4 linked regions of the Homo sapiens genome follow. The protein of the gene in region 4 interacts with the protein of the main gene of each other region in a pairwise test. Each region holds a gene or a part of one and is shown on either strand. Other genes may lie near its edges.

Evidence for each region. Proteins that work in one complex are often made in the same cells at the same time.
Region 1: the proteins of TMEM51 (region 4) and CCDC167 interact in binary tests that used the Homo sapiens proteins (3 or more experiments, as listed by UniProt).
Region 2: the proteins of TMEM51 (region 4) and TMEM14A interact in binary tests that used the Homo sapiens proteins (3 or more experiments, as listed by UniProt).
Region 3: the proteins of TMEM51 (region 4) and VAMP4 interact in binary tests that used the Homo sapiens proteins (3 or more experiments, as listed by UniProt).

The regions. Positions count from the first base shown.
Region 1 is NC_000006.12:37,486,394-37,489,893, forward strand, and holds part of CCDC167 (coiled-coil domain-containing protein 167), read right to left. Parts: intron 1-3,500.
Region 2 is NC_000006.12:52,674,113-52,677,612, reverse strand, and holds part of TMEM14A (transmembrane protein 14A), read right to left. Parts: intron 527-3,500; 5' UTR 511-526; coding exon 441-510; intron 1-440. UniProt on the Homo sapiens protein: Inhibits apoptosis via negative regulation of the mitochondrial outer membrane permeabilization involved in apoptotic signaling pathway.
Region 3 is NC_000001.11:171,707,566-171,711,065, forward strand, and holds part of VAMP4 (vesicle-associated membrane protein 4), read right to left. Parts: intron 3,250-3,500; coding exon 3,149-3,249; intron 2,236-3,148; coding exon of another isoform or gene 2,180-2,235; coding exon 2,100-2,179; intron 1-2,099. UniProt on the Homo sapiens protein: Involved in the pathway that functions to remove an inhibitor (probably synaptotagmin-4) of calcium-triggered exocytosis during the maturation of secretory granules.
Region 4 is NC_000001.11:15,216,247-15,219,746, reverse strand, and holds part of TMEM51 (transmembrane protein 51), read right to left. Parts: intron 422-3,500; coding exon 4-421; 3' UTR 1-3.

The sequences.
Region 1 (3,500 bases), on a different chromosome or scaffold from region 4:
CACAATGGCTGGTTAGAGGGTAGCAGGCATTCTGGGGCTGAGTGTCAGGAGAGTTGCATTCCAAGTCTCTGGGCCTTCTGTCTCTCTCCACGGCCAACACCCATCTCAGCCACTTCCATGTCAGCCACTTTTCCTTCTTCCCGAGGGAGGCCTGGCAATGACACACCATCCACCCCCTGCCCTGCAGCCCCACCATGGCCACCTCCAGCCCCATAAGCAGGGCCCTGTGGGAGAGAGCGACCACAGAGCCTTGAGTTAATTGCCTGGTTAATTGTGTCGTTTCTCTGCTACTGGGCACCCAAAAGGAGGGCTGTCCTGGGAAACAGACCCAGCCAGGAGATGGGGCTGTCCCTGGGGAGGCCAAAGGCCTACCTAGAACCTGTGCAGCATGGAAATGAACACTGGGAAGCCAGATTCAGGGAAGAGCGGCAGCCCCATGCCCAGTGCCTCAGGCCACCATGTGGCCTCCCCTTTACAGCAGCACCCCCAGCACACAGCCCAGCCCCTCAGTACCCTGAGACTCAGATTCCACTCAAGAGCACAAATAAAGCTTAATTCTTGATGCCCTACCTCCTCCACCAGGCTTCCCTGCTGCCCTTGGCTGTGGCAGGGGGGTGGGGGTTGGGGGGCAGGGGACGGGGTGCATTCCACCCTCCTTCTCCTGGGAAATTAACCAGTCCTTCCTTCATGAGGCTGAGTATATTCTTTGTTGCCCTTCTGTTTGTGTCCAAACTTTATCTTCCCAAACTCTAGGGGTCTCTAAATGGTGCCAACTGGCAGCCCGTAGGTCAGGTCTAGCCCACAGATTGGCCCATTCCACTTATATATGTGAACTGCCTGGTCCCGGCAGAGGCCCGAGTCTAAAGCTCCTGTCCTAGAAGGAACAGTGACCATCTGTCTCCTCTTTGTGCCCACCAAGGCCTAGCCTGCTGCAGTCTTTGTATTTTTAGCCACAATGAGTGGAGTTGAGCTTGGGTGGGACTGAGGGGCAAGGACAGACGGTTTAGGTCTCACGTAGCAACTGGAGCCTGAAACCTCCGTTCTTCTTGTCCATAGAAGCTAGAAAAAGCTAGGAGGAGGAGAAGCAACTAGACATGCACATAAATTGTACGCTTTGCAGATTGCCCAGTGCAAGTCTTAGTCCTAGGTGAGATTTCTCCTTAACAGTCCTTGAGCCAGGCCTTGGTTTGCGTGTCATTCTGGGGAGGGAGCAGATTGCGGAATTCCATCCCTGAACACCTCTGGAAGGCTACCAAGTGCCCAAACAAGTGGTAATTGCCCCCAGAGCAAGGCCAGGAACTCATGCTAAGCAAAATCTTAAAATTTTGAGGTTGGCAAACCACAAGTGGCCAAGCCAATCTGCTATCATGCTCTGGGCAGAGCCTGCGGAGCTGGCAGTCGGGGGCCTTTATCTGAACAAGCCCAATTTATCTGCAGTTCCACTGAATATTCCCACTTTCATTTGCCACTTTTTAATGAGGCTTAAACGGTCGAACACAAATCAAGGTTTTAGGGACTCAAGTTCTAACCTCCCTCTATGAATATTTATGTCCTGCTGACAGCTCTCGCTGATTCCCTTCTAAATAGCAAGTTCCCCTTCTTTATAACCCAGCTGCTTGATGTGGGCTGAGTGAGGGGAGGCTAAGACTGTCAAGAGGCTCTTCAGAGGCCACAAACCCATCCTCAGAAGGTGACCCTGCGGGGTCCCCAGCACTGGGCCTGGTTCGGGAAGCTGACAATCAAACACCCTGCAGCATTTGCTGAAGCAGGAGCCAGCTGTCAACATGAGTGGAGAGACTCCAGGGGACCTGGCTGCAGAGGCAGGGAGGGAAGGTAGGTCCAGATGCCTCTTTTAGTTGTGGCTGGGGTCAGGAGTGGTGGCTACAGAGCAGAGCTGACACAGCAGGATGGGCCTGAAAGGTGGGAGAGGACCCAGAAAGTGGGTCTTAAAGGAAGTCCCGACTTGGATTTTCAGCCAGCTCTCAACTACATGCACACGGATTATGCACTTTGCAGACGACCCGAGGCAAATGTGCAGTCGTTGGTTAGCTCTCTCCTTGCCACCACCAGGCTAAAGGCAACGGAAGACAAGACAGCCAGGACCAGGAGAGAAGATGTGGGGATTAGGACCAGATAAGGAGACAAATGTCAAGAAGATTCTAGAAGTGTAAGGGCCAGAACTGGGCAAGCAGTTGGGAGCTCAAGTGCCCAGAAGCCTGGAATGGTGGTTCCAGGTAAGTGAGTGGTAAGGAGCATGGGCTATAATCAGTGCCCCTGGCTCTGTCACTCACTTGTGGTATGACTGGGCAACTCCCTTAGTTCTGTGCTCAGTTGACTCACGTGTAAAACAAAGATAACCACATTTCATATTTCAAAGAGTTTTGTGAGGATGACATGGAGCCAACAGGTAAGATGCCCAGAACATGCTTTACATGGTCAGAGTTCAGTAAGTGTTTGCTATCTTTATTATCAGAGAGTGGTTTGCACTAGATCTTTGGAGAATAAAAGAAAACCTGGTTAGTCCATGGCAAGAGTAAGAGAAGGTGATAGAAGCAGGGGTGTGGCTGGGCATGGTGGCTCACGCCTGTAATTCCAGCACCTTGGGAGACCAAGGTGGGCGGATCACGAGGTCAGGAGATCCAGACCATCCTGGCCAACATGGTGAAACTCTGTCTCTACTAAAAATACAAAAATTAGCCAGGCGTGGTGGCGCACGCCTGTAGTCCCAGCTACTCAGGAGGCTGAGGCAGAAGAATTGCTTGAACCCAGGGGGTGGAGGCTGCAGTGAGCCGAGATGGCACCACTGCACTCCAGCCTGGGTGACAGAGCGAGACTCTATCTCAAAAACAAACAAACAAACAAAAAAAAACAGCAGGGGTGTGAGGTGGAGAGGAATCTCCATGAGTTGCTGACTGGCAGTGCAGGGAGGAGGGCCCCTCTACCTTGGATGTGGCCATTCCCAGTCCATGAAGAGGTTCAGCAGGGAGGGCCCCCAGGGTAGATGTCAGAACAACAACAGGCCACAGGCCAGCTCGCTCCGCTTACTCCAGACATGGCATGGTGGGAACCTTGCGATCCTTCCCTGGGACAAAGCTGGGGTGGGCCTCTGGAGCCAGGGCCAGGTTGCAGACATGGCACCTGGTAGAATCCTAGCGTGAGAGGCCTGGAGCCATGTCCAAGGTGGAACAGCCTGGGGGCGGTCTGGGCATCAGTGGGCATCTGAGGAAATGTGGAACAGCAGGTGAGGCCCAGCAGCCAGAGCCAGGGCTCACTCACACCATGGTTCTAGGCAGCCTGAAGAGGCCCCGTGGAAGGGATCCCACCAAGCCCAGTAGGAAGGGAAAGTTATACTCTGAAGGCCACAGGGGCTCCCAGGACTCCTGCCCGACAGGCTGCATAGTAGGGCCAGCTGGCAGGAAGAGGCATGCCTGGCTCAGGGGCCAGGACTTGCCTGGAGCTATCAGGGGGCAGCACTTACGGCTGTGACTGTGACCGGCAAA
Region 2 (3,500 bases), on a different chromosome or scaffold from region 4:
CCCCTCTTTTGGACAAAGGTGAAGAGACAACTTTGGATATGATAACTGAATATTTAACAATGTTTTCATTACAACACACAGGATCAATATAACTCAGTTTTTTGGTACCACGATTATGTAAAGCAAAAAAAAAAAATCCTCATTTAATAATAAGCAGTGGTCCTGAGGGAGATTAAATCAATTAACTATGCAACTGATGATGAAGTGAAGTGAGAGTTTTGTGGTGGAAGAGAGGCCCAGAACCCCCAGGTTGGAACACTCTGTCATGCTCAGCCCCACGGAAGCCTCTTCCTTTCATGAGTCCCTTCCAAGACACGCTGGTCTTCAGCCACCTCTAAGGCATCTTTAGCTTCTCATCCTACTTACAGAGCCTCACATGACCTAGCACAACCTCCAAACCCCCACTAATTCCCTTTCATGAAAATTTGGGTTAGGCTTACCTCTCCGCTTATATCCAAAAATGCTTCCAAATGTCACGAGGGCTGCATAACCAAAACCGATCAGGTCCATTGGCAAGGTTGCAATTCTAAAGCAAGGGGGAAAGGACAAATTATACAAAATAAAAAAGTTTTGGGGAGGGAATGTATCTAAAAATGATACGCTTATATGGTTTGGCTGTGTGTCCCCACCCAAATTTCATGTTGAATTGTGATCCTGAGTGTTGGAGGTGGGGCCTGGTGGGAGGTGACTGGATCACGGGGGTGGCTGCTAATGGTTTAGCAACATCCCCCTAGTGCTGTTCCATGATCTAAAGTTCTCACAAGATCTGGATGTTTGAAAGCGTGTAGCACTTCCCCCTTCACGTGCTCTCCCCCTCCTGTCGCCATGTGAAGACATGCTTGCTTCCCCTTTGCCTTCCACCATGATTATAAGTTTCCTGAGGCTTCTCCAGCCACGCCTCCTGTACAGCCTGCGGAAGTTGAGTTGATTAAACCTCTTTTCTTCATAAATTACCGAGTCTCAGGTAGTTATTTAGAGCAGTGTGAGAATGACTAATACAAAGACATTCCACAGAATTACAGAAATTAATTTCTCTAGTCTACTAAAGAAAGGGAAGTTCGGCCAGGCATGGTGCTCACGCCTGTAATCCTAGTACTTGGGAAGACCAAGGCAGGTAGATGGCTTAAACCCAGGAATTTGAGACCAACCTGATCAACATGGCAAAACCCCATCTCTAGTAAAAATACAAAAAATTAGCTGGGTGTGATGGCATGCACGTGTGATCCCAGCTACTCAGGATGCTGAGTTGGGAGGATTGCTTGAGCCCTGGAGGTTGAGGTTGCAATGAGCCGTGATTGTGCCACTGCACTCCAGCCTGGATGACAGAGTGACACCCTGTCTCAAGGGAAAAAAGAGGTTCAAACTTCACCTCTCCCAACCCTCTACTTTCCCCTTCATCCTCATCACTGTTAAGCACACTCTGGGGGGTACCTCAAGCTGATTCTCCTCTGCCTGTCTTCAAGATCTGCCATACTCTCAGCTGTTCAATTCTTTCCACTTACCCAAATAAAACTTCTGCTCTGGTCAGCCAGGTCTCTTCACTGAACTGTGACACTACAATCTTCACTTTTCACTTCCATGCCTGAAATGTCCTCCCTCCCTGTCCACCTCCAAAAGCCCGACTATCCCCTGTATGCCACCTCCCTTTAAACCTTCTCCCCTGACTTCTACCCTTATTAATTACCTCCTAATTTCCTTGACTCTAGTCTGTACTATCAAAGTGATCTGGAGCAAATGCCTTCTTCCTCCTCTAAATTCCTTAACTTCCACAATTCCATCTTATAATTCTTTCATGTCTGTACAGATATTAGTCCTCTCATTCTTTACAGATGGATGTCTTCTTGGAGATTGACTAATTCAGTTTAAACAATGGCTTTGTCATTAGTTTCCTTGCAAGATAGCTCTTCTGTGGTAGCAGAGACATCCACACTTAATCAATGGCAAATCACTAAAGAATACAATATAGCCCCAGCATGAAGTTAAATGGATGACAATGACATCCTACTGTGCATCATAGCAGCAGCTGAAACATACCCAGTGGTGAGAAGTTCCACTGAAACCCTGCCCACAATTCTCTCAGATGCAGTAGATAGCGTGCCAGCCACAGGCTAGAGATGTGGCCACTGGGCCTCAGACCATGCCCCTCCCTCACCCTCAACTCTCCCTGCAAGTTAGGAGAATAGATGAAAAGAGTTCTGGAGTTCTTTACAGCTTTTTAAGTTCTAAGACCCCTAGTGGTGCCTTTATTTCTGAGCTTTCTCACGTCTATATTTCTTCCACAGGGAAGGTAATTATCTTTGTAAATGTGAGGAATGGTAAGTGAGATTCCTTGCATATTTTTACAATTTTCTCATTGCTTATCATTTAGGTTAATGGGCCTTTTATCTCCCATTATCAATTGGTAATAAATTAATGTAGAACATAAAAAGGGGCCAGGCGAGGTAGCTCACGCCTGTAATCCCAGCACTTTGGAAGGCAGAGGCTGGTGGATCACTTCAGGTCAGGAGTTTGAGACCAGCCCAGTCAACATGGTGAAACCCCTTCTCTACTAAATATACAACAAATTACCCGGACGTGGCATGGTGGTGCATGTCTGTAATCCCAGCTACTCAGGAGGCTGAGACCGGAAAATCCCTTGAACCTGCGAGGCAGAGGTTGCAATCAACTGTGATCGTGCCACTGCACTCCAGCCTGGGCGTCTCAAAAAAAAAAAAAAAAAAAAAGAAGAAGAATTTTGAGCTGATCTCAGAGTCATCCACTAGAACTTACTATGAGGAAGGGTATGGGGGAGGGAAGCTGAGGCACAGGAGATGACAGCACCAAAAAGGAGGCAACACTGAAAAATGCTCATCATCTGCAGGAAGGAGAATTAAAACAGGAGAGCTCATCTGTGGCCGAGAAGTGGTACAGTAGGATGTAGCATGTAGGGAGAACCTGGGTCCAAAAACCATTTGCTGACTGAATGATGGCTAAACAAATAATAATAATAAAGAGGTTATAATGTTTTTGAGCAATTACTATGTGCTAGGTGCCATTCTAAGGCATTCTAGGTGCCTTATGTGTATCAACTCATGTAATCATGACCACACCCTATGGTATGTACTGTCATGATTATCCTCATTTTCCAGATGAGGAAAGTGGCACACAGAGAATGCAAGCAATGCCTGAAGGTTATACAGCAAAACAAAGATCTCTGACTTAGGGAAGTCTCAGTCCTAACCTCTATGCAACATCACCTCTGATAACTGAGTTAGCTGCTGAAAAAAAGCGAACATGTAAACCAAACATGTTCTTCAGAGTTTTCAATTCTGGATCAATCACATGCTCTTCATAGCTTAAAGTTGTGACCACAGGGCACTGTGTTCCATCTGGTAACTTACAATGTTCAGCCCCATGAACTTCTCATGTTTGATCCTACTTATTATCTTTCTAAAGGAGCTAACCATATGCTATAAAGTATGCTTATCTTCAAACCTGATACCACCACTTACTAGCTGTGG
Region 3 (3,500 bases), about 160 Mb from region 4:
GGCTGCCCCAGATGAACAGTAGCACAATGAAGTATTAATGGGGCACAGTAAAACTGAAGGAAGCTAAGCATTAGAAAATAATAAATGAAGAATACTCGCTACTGTAAATGGTGTTTGTTACATTATGGAACAATGATTTTCATTACATGGTCGATGCTATTCATGGTCCCCAGAGGTTCTCAAGGTGATGACTATTTAAAAATATGACTCAATGTTTTTCCTCCTTAAAAGCACGCTATTCCTCTGACCCAAACCCCATAAAGTACAAAGCAAACATTTTTAGCAATGGTTAAAAAAAAAGCTAGGCAAAATGTACATTATGACCATCTTTTTGTGGATACATGAATAGGGTACATGAGTTTGGGAGAGAGAAGGGGTGAGTGGCTCATGGACTTTTTGTTTTTCTAAATTAGCCCACAGAATAGAAAATTTCTATAGATATAGAAGCTTTAGGCAAAGTGTGGTGGCTCATGCCTGTAATCCAGCACTTTGGGAGGCTGAGGTGGGCAGATTGCTCGAGGCCAGAAGTTCAAGACCAGCCTGGCCAACATAGTGAAACCCCGTCTCTACTAAAAATACAAAAATTAGCCAGGTGTGGTGGTGCATGCCTGTAATTCCAGCTACTCGGGAGACTAAGGCAGGAGAATCGCTTGAACCTGGGCTACTTAGGAGGCTGAGGCATGAGAATCACTTGAACCTAGGAGGCAGAGGTTGCAGTGAGCCAAGATTGTGCCACTGCACTCCAGCCTCAGAGACACAGCAAGAGTGCCACAAAAAAAAAAAAAAAAAGACTTTAAAGAAAATAAATTTATTCTTTAAAGAATAAATAACTTAAAATAGAATAGAAAATTTAAATTCTGAACAAGGGGAGAAATGAAACATATTTCTTCCCTCAGTTCCACTTCTGAAAGTAGGACGATTCAATAGGTAGACAAATAAAAATAAATAAATCCAAGGTAACTCTTGGAAAAAATCCTCAGCATATGGCTAAGTCAGGTTTAGAAAGTTATTGCTGGCTGGTGCAGTGGCTCATGCCTGTAATCCCAGCACTTTGGGAGGCCAAGGCAGGTGGATCACCTGAGGTCAGGAGTTCAAGACCAGCCTGACCAACATGGAGAAACCCCGTCTCTACTAAAAAAAAAAAAAACAAAAAAAACAAAATTAGCTGGGCATGGTGGCACATGTCTGTAATTCCAGCTACTCAGGAGGCTGAGGCAGAAGAATCGCTTGAACCCTGGAGGCAGAGGTTGCGGTGATATTGTGGTGAGCCGAGATCAGCCTGGACAACAAGAGCAAAACTCTATCTCAAAGAAAAAAAAAAAAAAAAAAAGGAGAGTTATTGCTAAACTTGAAATTGAAAATGAGAGACTAAAAACAGTGAGTTCATGTCTAAATTTTAAACAAAGCCAAAAATTATAACTAGAATCAGGAGAAAAAAAAAAAAGATTTGCTCATATAACGTGAAAAACATTTTCTGTTAATGATTAGTAGCCACAGTGGATTTAAGAAGTAAATGTATTTCTATACAATGTTTTGCAGGAGTATATATTAGTATGTAGTGATTCCAATGTTTACCTTGTTAAAAATGGTAAAAATTTCTTTTACTTTTTATTTTTCTGGAATAATGAGGGAAGTGGAGTTTTTTCTTAACTCCATTTGTCTTAACAGATTCGGATATGTAAGCTTTTATTTTTTACCCTTTCAACCGAAAGTCATATTTTTCTCTAGCTCCTACTTTTGATATCTCTACATAATGCTATAGAGGTTGCTCCAAAAAAGTATTAATAGTAAATTTCAAGAAAAAATGTATATTTGTTTTAAGTTAATAAGTTTAGAGGTAGTCAAATATTAATAAAATGTGGATTACTTTCATTAAAAAAATCTATGAAAACATCCTTTTAGGCATACTGATTTATTTAGTTATCCCTATCCCAAAAGCAATTAAGTTAACAAGTATTTACTGAATTTCTACCATGTCTCAGGACAGTTATAGGCCCTGTTCTCACAGAGGTTATGCTCTAGAGGCCCTTTTTTCTTCATGTGTTTGAATACCACTTCAGATGCTGACCAGTCTATCCAGTAGCTTCTGATTTACTTACTTTGCATCCACGCCACCACATTTGCCTTCGAAGTTGTTTGGATCTGTTGCTAAAAGCTGTTGCATTATCCGATAAGCTTTCTATATCACATAGAGGATGGAGAGAAGGATTAAACGACATAACAGGATTCTTTTATCTAGTCACACAAAGATAAGAAAATATTAATTTCTACTTCTGCAAATTTATTCCCTTTTAAGCATGAAAACAGCATTCTCCCTTTTTTCCACCCACAAACTCTGGCATTCTACATTATTAAAAAAATGAAAACAAAAAGCAAAAAACAGCTTGCAGATCAGTTTGCTCACTTCTTTTTTATTATAAAATTAAGAAAAGTCTTTTTAGGGCCTTAATGCTTATAAATAAACTTAGGAAATCTAGTAAGAAAAATACTCTTTAAAAATTCAAATACTTGGCACACCTCTAGAAAAAAAATTACATGTTGAGAAGTTAGCTTCTTAGAAGATATCAAAAGTGACTGATTTTAAAGGAAAACAATATACATTTTAAATGTGACTAAGCGAGGTGTTTTTTTTTTTTCTAAAGTCTGTCAAAGATTAATCAGGTATTCAGCCATTCACCAAACAATATTTGAGTGGCAAGTACGTGCCAGGTATAGGTATAGGTATAGGTATAGGTTATAGGTGTAATGACTGAAAGTAAAGAAAGGTGACTAAGTTACCAAATAAAACATAAAATAAAAATAGCAGATAAGTTTGAAACAAGTGTTGAAAAGTGAGTAGGTCTTTAGGCCCTGAGATCATGAGAAACACAAAGTTCATCAATATCACAGGGCAAAAGAAAAAACAGCTCTACTCTTCACTCTTCAACAATGAAATTTTAAATTCTTCATTCTCCACTGAACAATTAAAAAATAATGAAACAATAAGATGACTCAAAGTAAAGGAGTTAAAATTAAACCATTAAAATCATATACTTAAGAACCAAATGCCAATTTCCTAAGCCAAGATTTGTAAACGTTGGCTAGACAAGTAGAAGACAAAAACTAGCAAACAGATTAGTAATATCAAGAAATACATGAAGATCTGTACCTGATTTGTCCTGTAGTTCATCTAGTCTCTCCCCTCTCTCAATTACCTTTGTAATATTTTCTTGCATGACATCAATAACTTCATCCACTTGATTCTGAACACTAGTTTAAAAAAGATACACAATTATTTATCCTTCTTTTGAGAATGCTTACAATTTTTAAAACTTTCATTAGACATAATAAAGAATAGCAAATTCTCAGAGAATTATTCAACTATAAAATTTAAATTTAAGACTTTGTAGCAATGTTCTTCCATTTGTGGGCTTCAGTACTCAGATAATGAAAGACAATATGATATAAATTAAAGTAATATTTAAAGATAGCTTACTTTTAGCCCTGCTTCTGACTTGTAA
Region 4 (3,500 bases):
CATTCAGTCGGGCGGCCGGGTGTCGGGGGCCTTCTCCTGGACTTCATCATACTGCGGTGGAGGAGTCAAAGGCTCTATCGAGGGAGGAGGGACGTTTTTGTCTGGGAGGTTGATCCTAAAGTCTTTGAGGTGAAGCTTTTCAGATTTAATCCTTCGAACTTTCAGCGGTTTCAGTCGTTTGGCCAACTTAGAGTTCTGCCTGTCAGGGGGGTTCCCAGGGCTGGCCTCCACGTCAGCCCTGGTGGATGTGGGGGTGGTCTCGTCGAGCCCCGTCAGTGACTCATAGGACGGGAGAGAGATGCTCAACCTCGGGTTCTGCTCCTCTCCCCTTGCTTCTGAGTAGTTTGTGTTCATCACTTCCTCGTAGCTGGGAACATAGTACCTTGAGGCAGCCTCCTCATCCTCCTCTTCTTCCTCCTGGCTGCAAGAAGACACACAGACAGGGAGAGTGTTAGCCTGTGCTCAAGTCATTCAAAATCCCAAAGGGATGGGCTCCAAAGAGTCCACACACAGCAGCCTTGTAAATAACAAATGGGTCTTAGAGGCAATAAAAGTGAATACTTCAAGTGTTTACTATGAGCTGGGCTCCCTTCTAAGTATTTTAGCAAATATGAACCAATTTCAGATTCCTGACAACACTATGAGTTAAGTACTAGTCATGCAGGACAGGACAGGTGAGTCCCCAAATTGGGGCTTAGCCTGGGAGGGTTCTTGGCTTCATCAAGGAAGGAATTCAAGGGTGAGCCAGTGGTGTTAGACCACAATTCTTTATTGAAGGGCACTGCTTCTTGTGGAGCAGGGCTAACTCATAGGCAGTACACCCTGAGTTGGCCACATAGGGGCTCTTGGAAATTGTATTTATACCCACTTTTAGTCACATGCAAATTAAGGGGTGGGTTAATGCAAATTGAGGGGCAAGCTATTTAAGACTTCCTAGGAAAGGTAACTTCTGGGTCGTTACCATGGAAAGGGATGGTAACTGCCAGGTCGTTGTCATGGCAATTGTAAACTGTCATGGCACTGGTGAGAGTGTCCCATGCTGATGAGCAATGAGGGCAGCCAGGGATCACCCTCGTTCCCGTTTGCTGGCTTTGGCTAGTGTTTTTTTAAACCTTATCTCATCTGGACCACATCCTGTTTTGGTCAGCAGGGTTATGATCAGAAAACAAGTCCTGCCTGTTTTCTATCTCACTATTATTATAATACCCAATTTATAGATGGACTGAGATACATCAAGATTAAATGACTTGGTCAGACCTTCAGGAAATGGGAGGGCAGGAAGTGAACACTGTACTCTCAACTACTCCACCATGTTATCTGGGTGTTAAACCTCCTTTGCCTTTAAGCCTTTCCCACTTAGCGACATGCTGCGTGAGCTATTCCAATGCTCAGCTGGGTCCTTTGGTCAAAGGCAACACAGAAATGTACAAAGTTGCTACCAACTTTCAGTAGAGAAAGAATATCTGAAATATAACATTTATGTGTGTCTCAAATTATTCTGTAATTTTATCTTCCAAGTTTATCCCAAGACTCAAAAAGATCAGGTCCTCTCAGCCTTATTCTCATTTGACTGTTGAAAGAGAAAACCAAAAAGTCAGGATATTTTCTACACATTTGTCAGAATTAACGCCAATAGCCACTTTCCAGGACTCTATACTTGAACCTGTGGGGTGATCATGGCCAACATCAGAAACCTCAAAGTCTGCCTTGGTTTTCCTCCCACCCTCCTTTAGGAATGAACTCAAATGTGCTCACAGCTAGGGTGGGGAATGATGAGTGATTGATATTTGTTCTTTTCTATATTTCTCAAGTTTTCTAGAATAAGCATGTGTGATGGTTAATTTTAGGTGTCAACCTGACTGGCCATGGTTGCCCATATTAAACACTGTGAGAGTGAGGGTGTTTCTGGAAGATACTAGCATTCAGCTCGGTGGGCTCTGTAAGGCAGATTCCCCTCCTCAGTGTGGTGGCACCATCCAACCCATGGAGGCCCTAGATAGACCCAAAGTCAGAGCAAGCAGGAATTTGACTCATTTCTCCCTGCCTCACTGCTTGAGCTGGGACATCTCATTTCATCTTCTCCTGCTCTCAGACTAGGATCTATACCCTCACCTCTCCTCGTTCTCAATCAGGCCTTCAAACTCAGAATGAATTATACCCCTTGCTTTCCTGGGTCTGCAGCTTACAGATGGCAAATTGTGGGACTTTTTGGCTTCCATGATCCCAGGAACTAATTCCTCATAATAAATCTCCATTTAAAAAAATATATATCCCCCTGGTTCTGTGTCTCTGGAGAACCCTGACCAATACAGCATATATTATTCTTTGCTATCAGAAAATGAGTTTAATTTGGAAATTGTATTTGTACCCACTTACACCCACTTTCAATTATGTGCAAAAGTAAGAAGTGGGTTAATGTAAATTGAAGGGCAAGCTATTTAGAACATTCTAGGAAAGGGATGGTAACTTCCAGGTCATTACCATGGAAAGGGGTGGTAACTGGTAACATTGGAGGGCAGAAATCCCTTCAATATAATGAGATTTTTTTTTCTTCTGGTGTGTACCCACAAGTGGCATTGCTGAATCATTTGGCAGCTCAATTTTGAGTTTTTTGAAGAAACTCTAAACTTCTCCACAGTGGTTGCACTAATTTACATTCCCACCATTAGTGTACCAAGGGTTCCCTTTAATCCATATTACATTAAGAACAATTCCCTTCCCACTATAAAGATAAGAAATGCTTGTAGAAAATTCAAACAACACAGAAACATCTAATGAAGAAAAGAAAAACATCCCGAATCCTTCTACCTGGAGACAAACCACTGTAACATTCTGGTGTATACCTTTCCTACCCCTCTCCAATCCCACAGCCACAACATTTGATGGGACCATAACCTGACCAAAGATGCTGTATTATATCCCCCTTTTCTCATTGTTGTGGATATGGTCCCACATTAACAAATATAGATCAACAGTTGCTGCATAGAACTCCATTGAATAGGTACGTCATTTAACTCAGTAGGTGGTTTTTTAGGTTGTTTCTAAGTTTTTGTTATCCTAAACAATGATCTGATAAATATACTGGTACAAACTCCTTTGCACCTGTGGGACTGTCTCCCAGGGATAAACTCTTATAAATAGGATCAATACGCACATCTTCAGTACTGCCCCTTATGGTGAAACTCTTAAGAAAGTTTCTATCAGTCAACATTTCATCAGCAATCCATCTTCCCTACAACTCTCCAACAGTAGGGGCTGTCTATCTTGATCAATATGATAGGCAAAAAAAAGAAAAGACATCTTTTTGCTTGCATTTCATGACTAATGAAGTTGAACATCTATTGGTTGAACATCTATGGAATATTCATAATCTTTGTCTGTTTCCTATTGGTATATTCATCTTACATATTCATTTCTAAGAGCTCTTTTTATAATAGGGATATCAACTATTATCATATCTTCCCCAATGTATCACTTATCTTTTAAATTTGTTGGTGGCA